Linked DNA regions of Homo sapiens. The protein of the gene in region 2 interacts with the protein of the main gene of each other region in a pairwise test. Each region holds a gene or a part of one and is shown on either strand. Other genes may lie near its edges.

Region 1 (7,026 bases), on a different chromosome or scaffold from region 2:
CAACACAGTGAGATCCTGTCTCTACTAAAAATTAAAAAAAAAATTAGCCAGGCATCGTGGCACACGCCTGTGTTCCCAGCTACTTGGGAGGCTGAGGCGAGAGGATTGCCTGAGCCTGCAATGGCGAGGCCACAGTGACCTGTGATGGCATCACTGCACTCCAGCCAGGGCAACAGAGTGAGACCCTGTCTCAAAGATAAATAAACAACTATTTCAAAAATTGATATATAATCCACACACCCTAAAACTCGCCCTTTGAAGTGTACGATTCATTGGTTTTTAATACATTCACAAGGTTGGGCAAATACTACCTTCATCTAATTTCAGGACATTTTCTGTTTTTTGAGACAGAATCTCCTTCTGTTGCCCAGGCTGGAGTGCAGTGGTGCGATCTCGGCTCACTGCAAACTTCCTTTGCCCCTGGGGAGCTTAAGTGGGTGGTGGGACAGGCAGCGAGACCCATTAGAGAACACAAGAGGCCAAGGCTTGAGATAGAGTGGAGGGGGCCGGAGAATACTAGTCAGAAGTTGCTGCTAGGGGCCGGGCTCAGTAGCTCACGCTTGTAATCCCAACACTTTGGGAGGCTGGGCAGGGCGGATCACTTGAGGTCAGGAGTTCAAGACCAGCCTGGCCAACATGGTGAAACCCTGTCTCTACTAAAAATACAAAAAAATTAGCCAGGCGTGGTGGTGAGCGCCTGTAATCCCAGCTACTAGGGAGGCTGAGGCAGGAGAATCACTCGAACCCAGGAGGTGGAGGTTGCAGTGAGCCAAGATCATGCCATTGTACTCCAGCCTGGGTGACAGAGCAACACTCCATCTCAAAACAAAAAACAGAAGCCATACCTATGCATGCCCAAGAGGAGAAATCAAGGCAGGCTTCCTGAAGGAGGTGTCATTAGCTTCCAAAAGCAGGTGAGGCTAGGGAAATCATTCGAAGCAGGTAGGCCCATGAAGCAGAGGTGTAGAGAGTGGCATCGGGACTCCAAGTACCCTAGGCCACCCCCCAGTCCCCTCATGGGTACCTCTGGCTTGGGCGGCTCCTTCTCGGGGCCCTGGAGCTGCTTCTGGTTCCAGCTGAGCCACATCTGGTGCAGCTTCTCCTGGCCTTCCACCAGCTTCTGATCAACGCCTTGCTTGACAGTTTCCATCTGGGGCAGGGGAGAGAGAAGTGAGGGAAGGAGGCTCCCCTGGGAGAGACGGGATTCCAGAAGGAACCCAAGGAATCCTTCCAGCATCTGACTTACATGACAGTCTAGAAAAGAGAAAGGGAGGGAGGGAGGAAGGGTTTCCTGGCTACGGTGAGCTCTGGGGCCTTTGGTTTAATCATTGACATACTCAGGCTCTGTGTGGTTGGTGCAAAGAAGGGCTGCACATCCCCTGTAGCTCTTCCCATTGTGTCAATTTCTCCTGCGCTTGCAAGGGAGCCTGGACACGTGGCTGGCTTTGGCCAATGGGACATGAGCAGATGGAACCAGCAAAGGCTTAAAAAGTGCTTGTAGGCTGGGCATGGTGGCTCACACCTGTAATCCCAGCACTTTGGGAGGTTGAGGTGGGTGGATCACCTGAGTTCAGGAGTTCGAGACCAGCCTAACCAACATGGTGAAACCCCGTCTCTACTAAAAATACAAAAATTAGCCAGGTGTGGTGGTGCACATCTGTAGTCCCAGCTACTCAGGAGGCTGAGGCACGAGAATCGCTTGAACCTGGGAGGCGGAGGTTGCAGTGAGCTGAGATTGCGCCACTGCACTCCAGCCTGGGTGACAGAGCCAGACTCTATCTCAAAACAACAAAAAACAAAAAACAAAAAAAAGTGCTTGTAATGAAATATGACTCAGCCTTCCAAAGGAACGAAGCAGGCTGACTTCTGCAATCCCAGCGCTTTGGGAGGCCAAGGGGGTTGGATCAGTTGAGCTCAGTAGCTCCAGAACAGCATAGGCAACACAGTGACATCTCATCTCTACATATTACATAAAGTTTAAGAGAAAAGAAAAATAGTCGGCCGAGCGCAGTGGCTCACACCTGTAATCCCAGCACTTTGGGAGGCCGAGGCGGGTGGATCACGAGGTGAGGAGATCGAGACCATCCTGGCTAACACGGTGAAACCCCATCTCTACTAAAAATACAAAAAATTAGCCCAGCGTGGTGGTGGGCGCCTGTAGTCCCAGCTACTCGGGAGGCTGAGGCAAGAGAATGGTGTGAACCAAGGAGGCAGAGCTTGCAGTGAGCAGAGACTGCATGCCACTGCACTCCAGCCTGGGTGACAGAGCGAGACTCCGTCTCAAAAAAAAAAAAAAAAAGGCCGGGCGCGGTGGCTCACGCCTGTAATTCCAGCACTTTGGGAGGCCGAGGCGGGCGGATCAAGAGGTCAGGAGATCAAGACCATCCTGGCTAACACTGTGAAACCCCATCTCTACTAAAAATAGAAAAGAAAATTAGCCAGGCATGGTGGCCGGCGCCTGTAGTCCCAGCTACCAGAAGGCTGAGGCAGGAGAATGGCATGAACCCAGGAGGCGGAGCTTGCAGTGAGCTGAGATCGCGCCACAAAAAGAAAAGAAAAATAAATAAAGAGGAATGATGGCAGACATATGCTCCAAGATGGGTGCACCTAAGAGGCTGCAGTGAGCCATGATCATCCACTCCAGCCTGGGCAACAGAGTGAGCCCCTGTCTCTGGAAAAAAAAAAAAAAAAATCGTCATAAAGGTAAATGAAGCTATCCATTAGGGTGGGCTCCAATCCATAAAGGGCTGGTCTCCTTCAATAAGGAGATTAGAGCTGTGCGTGGTGGCTCGTGTCTGTAATCCCAGCACTTTGGGAGGCTGAGGTGGGTGGATCACTTGAGGTCAGGAGTTTGAGACCAGCCCGGCCAACATAGTGAAACCCCATCTCTACTAAAAATACAAAAATTAGCCAGGCATGGTGGCAAGTGCCTGTGATCCCAGCTACTCGGGACGTGGAGGCCCAAGAATCACTTGAACCCGGGAAGTGGAGGTTGCAGTGATCTGAGATTGCACCACTACACTCCCGCCTGGGCAACAGAGCGAGACTCCGTTCAAAGAAAAAAAAGAGATTAGGACACAGACATACACAGAGGGAAGGGACGACCACGTGAATACACAGAGAGAAGATGGCTGTCTACGAGTCAAGGAGAGAGGCCCCAGAAGGACACTCTGATCTTGGACTTCCAGCCTCCAGAAATGTGAGAAAATAAATATCTGTTGTTTACATTTCCCAGACAGTACGAATTTTTTTTTTTTTTTTTTGAGATGGAGTCTCACTCTTGTCACCCAGGCTGGAGAGCAGTAGCATGATCTCGGCTCACTGCAATCTCTGCCGCCCGGGTTCAAGCGATTCTCCTGCCTCAGCCTCCTGAGTAGCTGGGATTACAGGTGCCTGCCATTGTACCTGGCTAATTTTTGTATTTTTAGTAGAGATGGGGTTTCACCATGTTGGCCAGGCTGGTCTTGAACTCCTGACCTCGTGATCCACCCGCCTCAGCCTCCCAAAGTGCTGGGATTACAGGCATGAGCCACCGCACCTGGCCACGATTTTTTTTTTTTTTTTGAGATGGGGTCTTGCTCTGTTGACTAGGCTGCAGTGCAGTGGCACAATCATAGCTCACTGCAGCCTCCAACTCCTGGGCTCAAGCAATCGTCCCACCTCAGCCTCCCAAGTAGCTGAGATTACAGGCACGCACCACCACAGCCAGCTAATTGTTTTAAATTATTTTTTGTAGAGATGGGGTCTTGCTATATTGCCCAGGTGGGTCTCAAACCCCTGGACTCATGCGATCCTCCTGCCTTGGGCTCCCAAAGCACTTGAGGGACTCACACAAAGAGGTGTGAGCCACTGTGCCCGGCCCCAGACAGTGTGGTTTGTGGCAGCATCCTGAGCAAATGAGTGTACAACCAGATACAGTGCCAGGAGCAAGCGGGAATGGCCCTGCCAGCCTGCAGAGGGGTGAGCAATAAGCCACTGAGCTCTGGGTGGGTGTCTGCTGCGGGGTGAAGGCTGCTGGCTCAGGGCCCCGACCCCCTGGAACCTCACCAGGCTTAGGACCTGCGACAGCTGCAGCAGAGCCTCCTGTGCCCTCTGCTTGGTGGCTCGAAGCTTGCCCAGCGAGTGCTCATAGGCGTGCTGCCGCAGCCTCTCCGACAGGGAGCCCAGACGTACGAAGTAGCTCTGTTCCTGCCGCTGCTGCTGCACGGACGCGACGTCAAAGCCATCCAGGGATGTGGCGATGCGGGCTGCAAGGAAAAGGAGAAGGGTCTCTGTGAAGACCAGAACACACAGCTGGGCTCGTCCCATGCAGACAGTCCCAAGAATCACACTGTCCAGTTTATTTATTTATTTATTTAGAGATGGAGTCTCGCTCTGTCGCCCAGGTTGGAGTGCAGTGGTGTCATCTCGGCTCACTGCAACCTCTGCCTCCCGGGTTCAAGTGATTATCCTGCCTCAGCCTCCCGAGTAACTGAGATTACAGGCGCCCGCCACCATGCCCAGCTAATTTTTGTATTTTTAGTAGAGACGGGGTTTCACCATGTTGGCCAGGCTGGTCTCGAACTCCTGATCTCCAGTGATTCATCCGAACTGGCCTCCAAAAGTGCTGTGATTATAGGCGTGAGCCACCACACCTGGCCATGCTGTCCAGTTTATAACCCAGTTCTACTTCTTATAAACCTCGAAGGCCTGGGAGCAAAGGATTCTGCCTTGGTTTTCCCTATCTGCAAAACGGGGATAAGGAAAATTAAACCTCACAGGAATCAGAGACCTTAGACTAGCAGGAGGGTCTCAAGCTATGGCCTGCAGGCCAGACCTGCCTTGGACAACCTGTGAATATAGGCCTGAATGTTCATTATGCAGTCCTGCAGAGAATAACAGCATTCCAGCCAGCAATACATCACATATACTACAGAGGTCCCATAAGATTATAATACCGTAGGCCGGGTGCAGTGGCTCATGCCAGTAATGCCAGCCCTTTGGGAGGCCAAGGCGGGCAGATCACTTGAGGTCAGGAGTTCAAGACTAGCCTGGCCAACATGGCACTACCCCATCTCTACTAAAAATACAAAAATTAGCCAGGCGTGATGGCACTAGCCTGTAATCTCAGCTACTTAGGAGGCTGAGGCAGGAGAATCGCTTGAACCCGGGAGGTGGAGGCTGCAGTGAGCCAAGATCACACCACTGCACTCCAGCCTGGGTGAGAGTGAGACTCCGTCTCAAAAAAAAAAGAGAATAATGACATTTCAGCCAACAATGGACTGCATATACTACAGTGGTCCCATAAGATTATAATACCATATATACCGTATTTTTCCTGTACTTTTTCTTCTTTTTTTTAGACAGGGTCTCGGTCTGTTGCCCAGGCTGGAGTACAGTGGCACGACCTCAGCTTACTGCAGGCTCAACCTCCCAGCTTCAAGCTATCCTTCAACCTTGGCCTCCCGAGTAGCTGGGACTACATAAAGCTGGGACTACGGCAAGACACCTGGCTAATTTTTGTACTTTTTGTAGGAATGGGGTCTCACTATGTTGCCCAGGCTGGTCTTGAAATCCTGGACTCAAGCAATCTGCTCGCCTCAGACTCCCAAAGTGCTAGGTTTACAGGTGTGAGCCATTGCACCTGGCTTCCTGTACCTTTTCTATGTTTAGATCTGTTTGTTTTGTCGGTTTTTATATTTTGAAGTACAGTCTCGCTCTGTTGCCCAGGCTGGAGTGCAGCGGTGCAATCATAGCTCACTGTAGCCTTGAACTCCCAGGCTCAAGTGATCCTCCTGTCTCAGCTCCCAAATAGCAACTGGGACTACAGGCGTGCACTAGCACACCCAGCTAATTTTTAAATTTTTTGTAGAGATGGGGTCTATGTTGTCCAGGCTGGTCTGGAACTACTGGGCTTAACTAATCCTCCCACCAAAGTGCTGGGATGACAGGTGTGAGCCACCACGCCTGGCCTCATCCCATGTTCGTAGGTTCATATGTGTATATGCATGTATTTATTTACTTATTTATTTATTTATTTATTTTTTTGAGACAGAGTCTCACTCTGTTGCCCAGGCTGGAGTGCAATGGCATGATCTCGGCTCACTGCAACCTCCGCCTCCCGGGTTCAAGTGATTCTCCTGCCTTAGCCTCCTGAGTAGCTGGGATTACAGGAATGTGCCACCATGCTTGGCTAATTTTTGTATTTTTAGTAGAGATGGGGTTTCACCATGTTGGCCAGGCTGGTCTCAAACTCCTGACCATGTGATCCAGCTGCCTCAGCCTCCGAAAGTGCTGGGATTACAGGCATGAGTCACCACACCTGGCCTTTATTTTTTTTGAGATGGAGTTTCACTCTTGTTGCCTGGGCTGGAGTGCAATGGCGCAGTCTTGGCTCACCACAAGCTCTGCCTCCCAGATTCAAGCCATTCTCTTGCCTCAGCCTCCCGAGTTAGCTGGGATTACAGGGATGCGCCACCATGCCTGGCTAATTTTGTATTTTTAGTAGAGATAGGGTTTCTTTATGTTGGTCAGGCTTGTCTCGAACTCCCGACCTCAACCTCCACCCGCCTCAGCCTCCCAAAGTACTGGGATTACAGCCATGAGCCACTGCGCCCAGCTGCATGTATTTATTTAATCCTGCTCCTACTGTACCCATGCTTTTTTTTTTTTGAGATGGAGTCTCACTCTGTCGCCCAGGCTGGAGTGCAGCGGCCCAATCTTGGCTCACTGCAACCTCTGCCTCCCAAGTAGCTGGGATTACAGACGCCTGCCACCGCACCTGGCTAATGTTTATTTTATTATTATTATTTTTTTGAGACGGCGTCTAGCTCTATTGCCCAGGCTGGAGTGGAGTGGCATGATCTCGGCTCACTGCAAGCTCCGCCTCCCAGGTTCATGCCATTCTCCTGCCTCAGTCTCCCGAGTAGCTGGGACTACAGGCACCCGCCACCACGCCCGGCTAATTTTTTTTTTTTTTTTTTTTTTTTTTTTAGTAGAGATGGGGTTTCACTGTGTTAGCCAGGATGGTCTCGATCTCCTGAACCT
Region 2 (6,931 bases):
CCCATCCCACCAAACCAGGGTCTTTTGGAAAAGAGTATTCTGGATACATAGCTGCCCTAAGGAGACGCCAAAGCAGACATACCTAGGAAAACCCAAACGTTCCTTGGATCCTGAGACAGCTGGTAAGCACCCAGGCCGGCTAGACTGCCAAAGAGCAGCCCTGCAGCCAGGGACGGCACGCTGCCTAGAGGGAAGCAAACACAGCTTGCATTGTAATGTCAGGCACTTATTTCACTAACGGAATCCCCCAGACCGCTGCCCTACAAAGGAGGACAGCACAGAGAACTCTCAACACAGCTCATAGCCAAGGTGGACTCAAGCAGGAAGACGTTACAGAGAGTGTGCTATCTTCTCAGAGAAGTCAGGGTCTTCCCACCCCATTTTTCTCTCCTCTAATAGGCAGGGCACTTCCATCTAAGGAAAGGAAAGAAGGCCATCTTCCCTCCTTAGATGGAACTGTGGCTAGGCCTTCTTTCTAATCAGGCCTGATCAACCATGAAGGACTGGAATTGTGTACAGGCAGGACCTCCAGCAAATCACAAAAGGAGAAGGAGATAAGGCCAGTCAATTAAAAAAATACAAAGACCTGGAGAAGAAGAATTCTGGTGCAGGGGTTGGGGTGGGAATGCAGGCAAGGACTAGGGGGCAAACACAAGCACAGCCACTGACACACCCCTGCCTGGCCTAACGAGGAGAGTTCAAAATACCAGTCTGTGTAGGCCAGAGGTTTCCTCCTACTTGAGCCCAGAGATGGCACTTGGGGGTCGTGGCTGATGAATGGCAGTCAACGATAATAACAAACTACAACCGCCCCTGCCTATCTGTAGATAAAGAGGCAAAAACAAGTAATTCCAAAAGAGGCCTGGCTCAGCTTCACCAGATAACCAAAGGGCAAGGGCAGGAGCTGCAAGACTGACAAGGAAGCCTGCACTCCAGCTTGGGGACCCACAGCAAACCTGACTCAAATGAGATTGCTTCTCAGGGACACGGGCATTCACATTTCACTGGGACAACGTGAAGATGTTAAGAGGCTAAGTAACAACAAAACCCTACCTGCTTTTACATAGCCAATGATCCCACCAGAAGCAACCAGTGCTGCGTAGCCAAAGCCAAACCAATGCAAAGGCACTCTGAAAACACAAGAGGGAGAAGTCAGTGCTAACCTGGCTTTGAAAACAAACCATACTGTCATAGGATGGGACTAAAAGGTAATCATTCCCCACAGGTCCTATCACTGAAAATAAGGACCACAGAGGTTGGATGACTTTCTGAGAGTCACACAACTCAGCAAAGCCAGAGCTGGGACTCAAACCCAAGTTTCTGGCCCACAGGTCCAGTGATCCTCCCATCCCCCATGCCATCCCAGGCAGTCTACTCTTAAGGTTCTTTTCAGCTAAGGAAAGGAACTCTGGTTTCCAGAAGCTCCTGGCTACTCCATACCCATTTACTGCACTCACACTGAGCCAGTGTCCTGCATTTTTCTCTTCTCTGTCCAGACAGGAGACTACCCCAGGCCTGCACCTGCAGAAAACAAGCTGGATCAGAGGTAGTTAAAAGCACAGCTCTCCAGCAGTCAGAAAGAAGTGTGTCCAACCTGCAAGCTACGCAACCTAAGTCTCAGTATTCTTCACTGTACCATGAGGATAACACTGGTACCGATTTCCTGGGGCTGTAGTGAGCATTCAATGGATGTCACATGTAAAGGTGCTTAGCACCTAGTAAACCCTGAACAGATGCTGACCATTGTCATGAAAACCTCAGTTTTAATCACATAGGCCCACGGGAAACTCAGCAAGATCCACTGACCAGCTCTAAAATCAGGGAATGTGTTAGTCATTTCATCAGCTACCCATGTTATCACTAAATTCAAAAGCAAATACTCCCGTGCCCTTAATCCAACTACTTTAATGTCTCTTTTGAGGGGAGGTAGGGGTGTTGCTTTTCATCCCTGCTGCAACAGCCAATTTCAAAGCTCAACTTTTTTAGAAACTTCTGCGTCCAACTCACAGTTCTTGTTAGGAGGGCAGTAGTAGGAGAGGATAAAATATACGGAAACAGTGGTCATATTCACATGTGACACTACACCCTTGGAAAAACAGCTTCTATTTTCTTACAGAAAGTATCCTGTGTCCAGTGAGCCAAAAGATGAAAGCAATGCATACCCCGTTTATTCTGTTTAAAGAATTAGGCCAAGCGCAGTGGCTGACGCCTGTCATCCCAGTACTTTAGGAGGCCGAGGCGGGCGGATCACCTGGGGTTAGGAGTTCAAGACCAGCCTGGCCAACATAGTGAAACCCATTGTCTACTAAAAAATATAAAAAAATTAATCGCGCATGGTGATATGCGACTGTAAATCCCAGCTACTTGGGAGGCTGAAGTGGGAGGATGGCTTGAGCCCAGGAGGCAGAGGCTGCAATGAGACATATTCAGGCAACTGCACTCAAGCATGGGCGACAGAGCAAGTCCCTCCCTCAAGGACAAAAAAAAAAAAAAAAAGAATTAAGTTTCCATAAAACAGGGAAGGGCAGCGGGCTTGGGATCTTGCCCACAGTTCTTAACTCGAGACGGCACCGAGTAAGGGAGGCTTTTAAAGAGATGGAGCAAGAAAATCACCAAGAAACGAGGCAACACTATGCTACATGGGTAAGCCTTTGCCTCAGGAGCCCAGGGGCTCCGCGCATCCACAACTTCTTTTAAAAGCAGAAAATACCCAACGAGAAAAGCACCGACCACACGGCCTGAAGGCCCGCTGAATCGGGGGGACGAAAAGCAGACGGCCGTGAAACTCCTAAATAATCCCTAAAAGTTAAAAGTGGCAGAAAATAAGAATAATCCCCAAATACTCGCACCGGTCTCACGAAGGCCCCGGCTGTCTACAAGGGCGCGCAAGCCGCAGGAATGACTGCGAGGTGTCGCCGGAAATGCAGCGGCGGGCGCTCTCCGTCCCGGTGGCGGGGCGAGGAGAGGGGAGCGGCTCTGTTGTGCCTGCGCAGTGTACCGGGAGAGGGGCGGTCAGAGAATGGGGACGGTGCGGGCGGGGCTTGAGCCGCCAAGTAGCAGCATGCGCCCTGCATTCAGCGGGTGGAGAGTGGGGCGGGGCATCGCGGCGAGCTCCTGAGTCCAGGGAACGCGGCGGGGAATCTCTGTGCTTCCCCTGTCCGCAGCGCCTGCAGGGCCGACCAGTATCAGTCCCAGGTCCAATCCTGAGTGGCCAAAAGCAGGAGACCCGGAGTTGGACCTGGGACTTGCACAAGCCGGACCACGTGAGCTCGGCCACGCCAGAGGTGAGGCCACCGCTGCGGGACCAGGGAATCTGAGGCTGGATTTTGAAGGACCCCATTAATAGAGGAACAAGTTACAGGGTATAAACCAGATGCAGGCCATCAGGGAGGAGTGTCACTCAAGCCCGATCTTGTCTACACCAGGAAGGGCCTGCCTGGAAGAAAATACGGGGGCTGCAGAATAATGTGGCTCAAAGCCAAATATCCGTTTGTTTTAGGGAGTGAGGCTGCTTGAGAAGCATCTTAAAGGGGGATGGGGAGTAAGTTAAACCTGATTTTTACCCAGCTCTGTGGACCCAAAATATCCACAGCATATTATCTCCATTCCCACTTGGAGTCACTCCTATTCCGTTTCCTGCACCACCATTCTCTTAGTTGCTCTACACTAAAATTTGCTGTCATCGTTGACTTCTCCCTCTCCATCCCCTACAAGTATCAACATACACAAATCTGACCAATATAATTGTCAGTGAATAAAGCGAATTCCAGCCAAGTTTTTTTTTTTTTTATGTGGAGTCTCACTCTATTGCCCAGGCTGGAGTGCAGCGTATGATCTTGTCTCACCACTACCTCTGACTCCCATGTTCAACTGATTCTCCTGCCTCAGCTGCCTGAGTAGCTGGGATTATAGGCCTGTACCACCACCCCTGGCTGCCAGGCTAATTTTTGTTATTTTTAGTGGAGATAGTGAGAGATCACAACGTGCCAGTGTGTTCAAAATTGATGGCTTCTTGGTCTGACTTGAGAAAGCTGCAGACCCTCGCGATGAGTGTTAGTTCTTAAAAGCAGTGTCTCTAGAGTTTTTCTTCCGATGTTTAGAAGTATTCAGGGAGTTTTTCTGCTGGTGGGTTTGCTGTCTCACTGGCTCAACGAGCAAAGCTACAGACCTCTGTGGTGGATGTTAAAGCTCTTAAGGCAGTGTGTCTGGAATTGTTTGTTCTTCCCGGTGGGATCGTGGTCTCCCTAGCTTTGGACTGGCTCAAGGAGCAAAGCTACAGACTTCTATAACGAATGTTAAAGCTCTTAAGGCAGTGCGTCTGGAATATGTTTGTTCTTTCCGGTGGGATCGTGGTCTTCGTAGCTTTGGGAGCAAAACTGCAAATCTTCGCAGTGAGCGTTACCACTTGTAAAGACAACACAGGACCTAAGCACCGAGCAACAGCAATATTTGTTGCAAAAAGAAAAAGAGAAAGAACAAAGCCTCCTCCACATAGAAGAAAACCCAAGTGCGTTACAACTACTGGCTTGGGCAGCCTGCTTTTATTCTCTTATCTGGCCCCACCCACATCCTGCTGATTGGTAGAGCCGAGTGGTCTGTTTTGACAGGGTGCTGATTGGTGCGTTTACAATCCCTGAGCTAGATACAAAAGTTCTCCACGTCCCCACCAGATTAGCTATAGAGTGTCCACACAAAGGTTCTCCAAGGTCCTGCCAGAGTAGCTAGATACAGAGTGTGGATTGGTGCATTCACAAACCCTGAGCTAGACACACGGTGCTGACTGGTGTGTTTACAAACCTTGAGCTAGATACAGAGTGCCGATTGGTGTATTTACAATCCCTAAGCTAGACATAAAGGTTCTCCACGGTCCCCACCAGAGTAGCTAGATACAGTGTCCATTGGTGCATTCACAAACCCTGAGCCAGACACAGGGGGCTGATTGGTGTGTTTACAAACCTTGAGCTAGATATAGAGTGCCAATTGGTGTATTTACAATCCCTGAGCTAAACATAAAGGTTCTCCACCTCCCCACCAGACTTAACCCAGCTGGCTTCACCCAGTGGATCCCACACCAGGGCTGCAGGTGGAGCTGCCTTCCAGTCCTGCGCCCTGCGCCCACACTTCTCAGCTCTTGGGTGGTTGATGGGACTGGGCCCTGTGGAGCAGGGGGTGGTGCTCATCAGGGAGGCTCGGGCCCTACAGGAGCCCACGGAGGTGGTGGGAGGCTCAGGCATGGCGGGCTGCAGGTTCCGAGCCCTGCCCCGTCGGAAGGCAGCTAAGGCCCCGCGAGAAATCCAACGCAGCGCCGGTGGGCTGGCACTGCTGGGGGACCCAGTACACCCTCTGCAGCCGCTGGCCTGGGTGCCAAGCCCCTCATTGCCCAGGGCCGGCCGGCCGGCTGCTCCGAGTGCGGGGCCCGCCAAGCCCACGCCCACCCGGAACTCCAACTGGCGCGGAAGCGCCGCGCGCAGCCCTGGTTTCCGCTCGCGCCTCTTCCTCCACACCTCCCTGCAAGCTGAGGGAGCCAGCTCTGGCCTTGGCCAGCCCAGAAAGGGGTTCCCACAGTGCAGCGGTGGGCTAAAGGGCTCAAGTGCCTCCAAAGTGGGAGCCCAGGAAGAGGAGGCGCCGAGAGCGAGGGCTCTGAGGACTGCCAGCACGTCGTCACCTCTCACTAGCAGCCTTCGCTTGCTCTCGGTGCCTCCTTAGCATCGGCCAGGCTCGAGGAGCCCTTCAGCCCGCCGCTGCGCTGTGCGGGGCCCTCCCTGGGGCTGGCCGAGACCGGAGCCGGCTCCATCTGCTCGTGGGGAGGCGTGGAGGGAGAGGCGCAGGCGGGGACTGGGGCTGCGCTGCCCCGGGTTCCAGGTGGGCGCAGGCTCGGTGGGCCCCGCACTTGGCGCGACCTGCCGGCCCCTGCTGGGCTTGATCGGAGGCTGGGTCCAGTGCGTGGACCGCCGTTCCCTCTTGGCGGGGTCGTTGGCCACGATGGCGGGTCTCTGTCTCTCTCCTCCTCTTTTCCTCTTGGTTGTGTGGGAGGAGCTCCCGGAGTGCCCAGGCTAGTTGCCAAAAAGTCCCACCCAACTCCCAGCGAGAGGTGAAGCCCGCTGGGCTTCTGGGACGGGTGGGGACTTGGAAAACTTTTGTGTCTAGCTAAAGGATTGTAAATGCACCAGTCAGCAGTTTTTTGTCTAGCTAAAGGTTTGTAAACGCACCAATCAGCGCTCTGTGTCTAGCTAATCTGGTCAGGACTTGGAGAACTTTTGTATCTAGCCAAAGGATTGTAAACGCACCAATCAGCACTCTGTGTCTAGCTAAAGGTTTGCAAATGCACCAATCGGCACTCTGTAAAATGGACCAATCAGCTGGATGTGGGTGTGGCCAGATTAGGGAATAAAAACTGGCCACCCACAGCCAGTAGGGGAAACGTGCTTGGGTGTTTTCTTGGGCTGACAGAGCTTTGTTCTTTTGCTTTTTGCAATAAATGTTGGTGCTGATAGTTCTTTAGATCCGTGCAATGTTTATGAGTTTTAATACTCACCGTGATAAGGCTACAGTTTTGCTTCTGAAGCTAGTGAGACCACAAACCCACTGAAAGCAGATGAAAAACTGGATGTGCCACCTTTATGAACTGTAGCACTGACTGCAGAGGTTGGTGGTTTTATTGCTGAGGCTAGCAGAGAGCACAAACCCACCAGAAAGAACAAGTAACTGCAGATGTGCCACCTCTAAGAGGTGTAACACTCACTGCAAAGGCCTGCAGCTTCATTCCTGAAATCAGTGAGACCGTGAACCCACCAGTAGGAAGAAACTAGATAATGTCTGAATGTCGGAAGGAACAAACTTTGGACCCACCATCTTTAACAGTTGTAACATTCAATCATGAGGGTCTGTGGCTTTATTCTTGAAGTCAGCAAGACGAACCCACAAAGTCCAG

Evidence for each region.
Region 1: the proteins of TMEM14C (region 2) and PLIN3 interact in binary tests that used the Homo sapiens proteins (3 or more experiments, as listed by UniProt).

What each region holds. Positions count from the first base shown.
Region 1 is NC_000019.10:4,843,644-4,850,669, forward strand, and holds part of PLIN3 (perilipin-3), read right to left. Parts: intron 4,248-7,026; coding exon 4,048-4,247; intron 1,151-4,047; coding exon 1,025-1,150; intron 1-1,024. UniProt on the Homo sapiens protein: Structural component of lipid droplets, which is required for the formation and maintenance of lipid storage droplets. Required for the transport of mannose 6-phosphate receptors (MPR) from endosomes to the trans-Golgi network.
Region 2 is NC_000006.12:10,719,160-10,726,090, reverse strand, and holds the start of TMEM14C (transmembrane protein 14C), read right to left. Parts: upstream 3,022-6,931; 5' UTR 2,850-3,021; intron 1,536-2,849; exon of another isoform or gene 1,522-1,535; 5' UTR 1,478-1,521; coding exon 1,458-1,477; intron 1,131-1,457; coding exon 1,054-1,130; intron 185-1,053; coding exon 83-184; intron 1-82. UniProt on the Homo sapiens protein: Required for normal heme biosynthesis.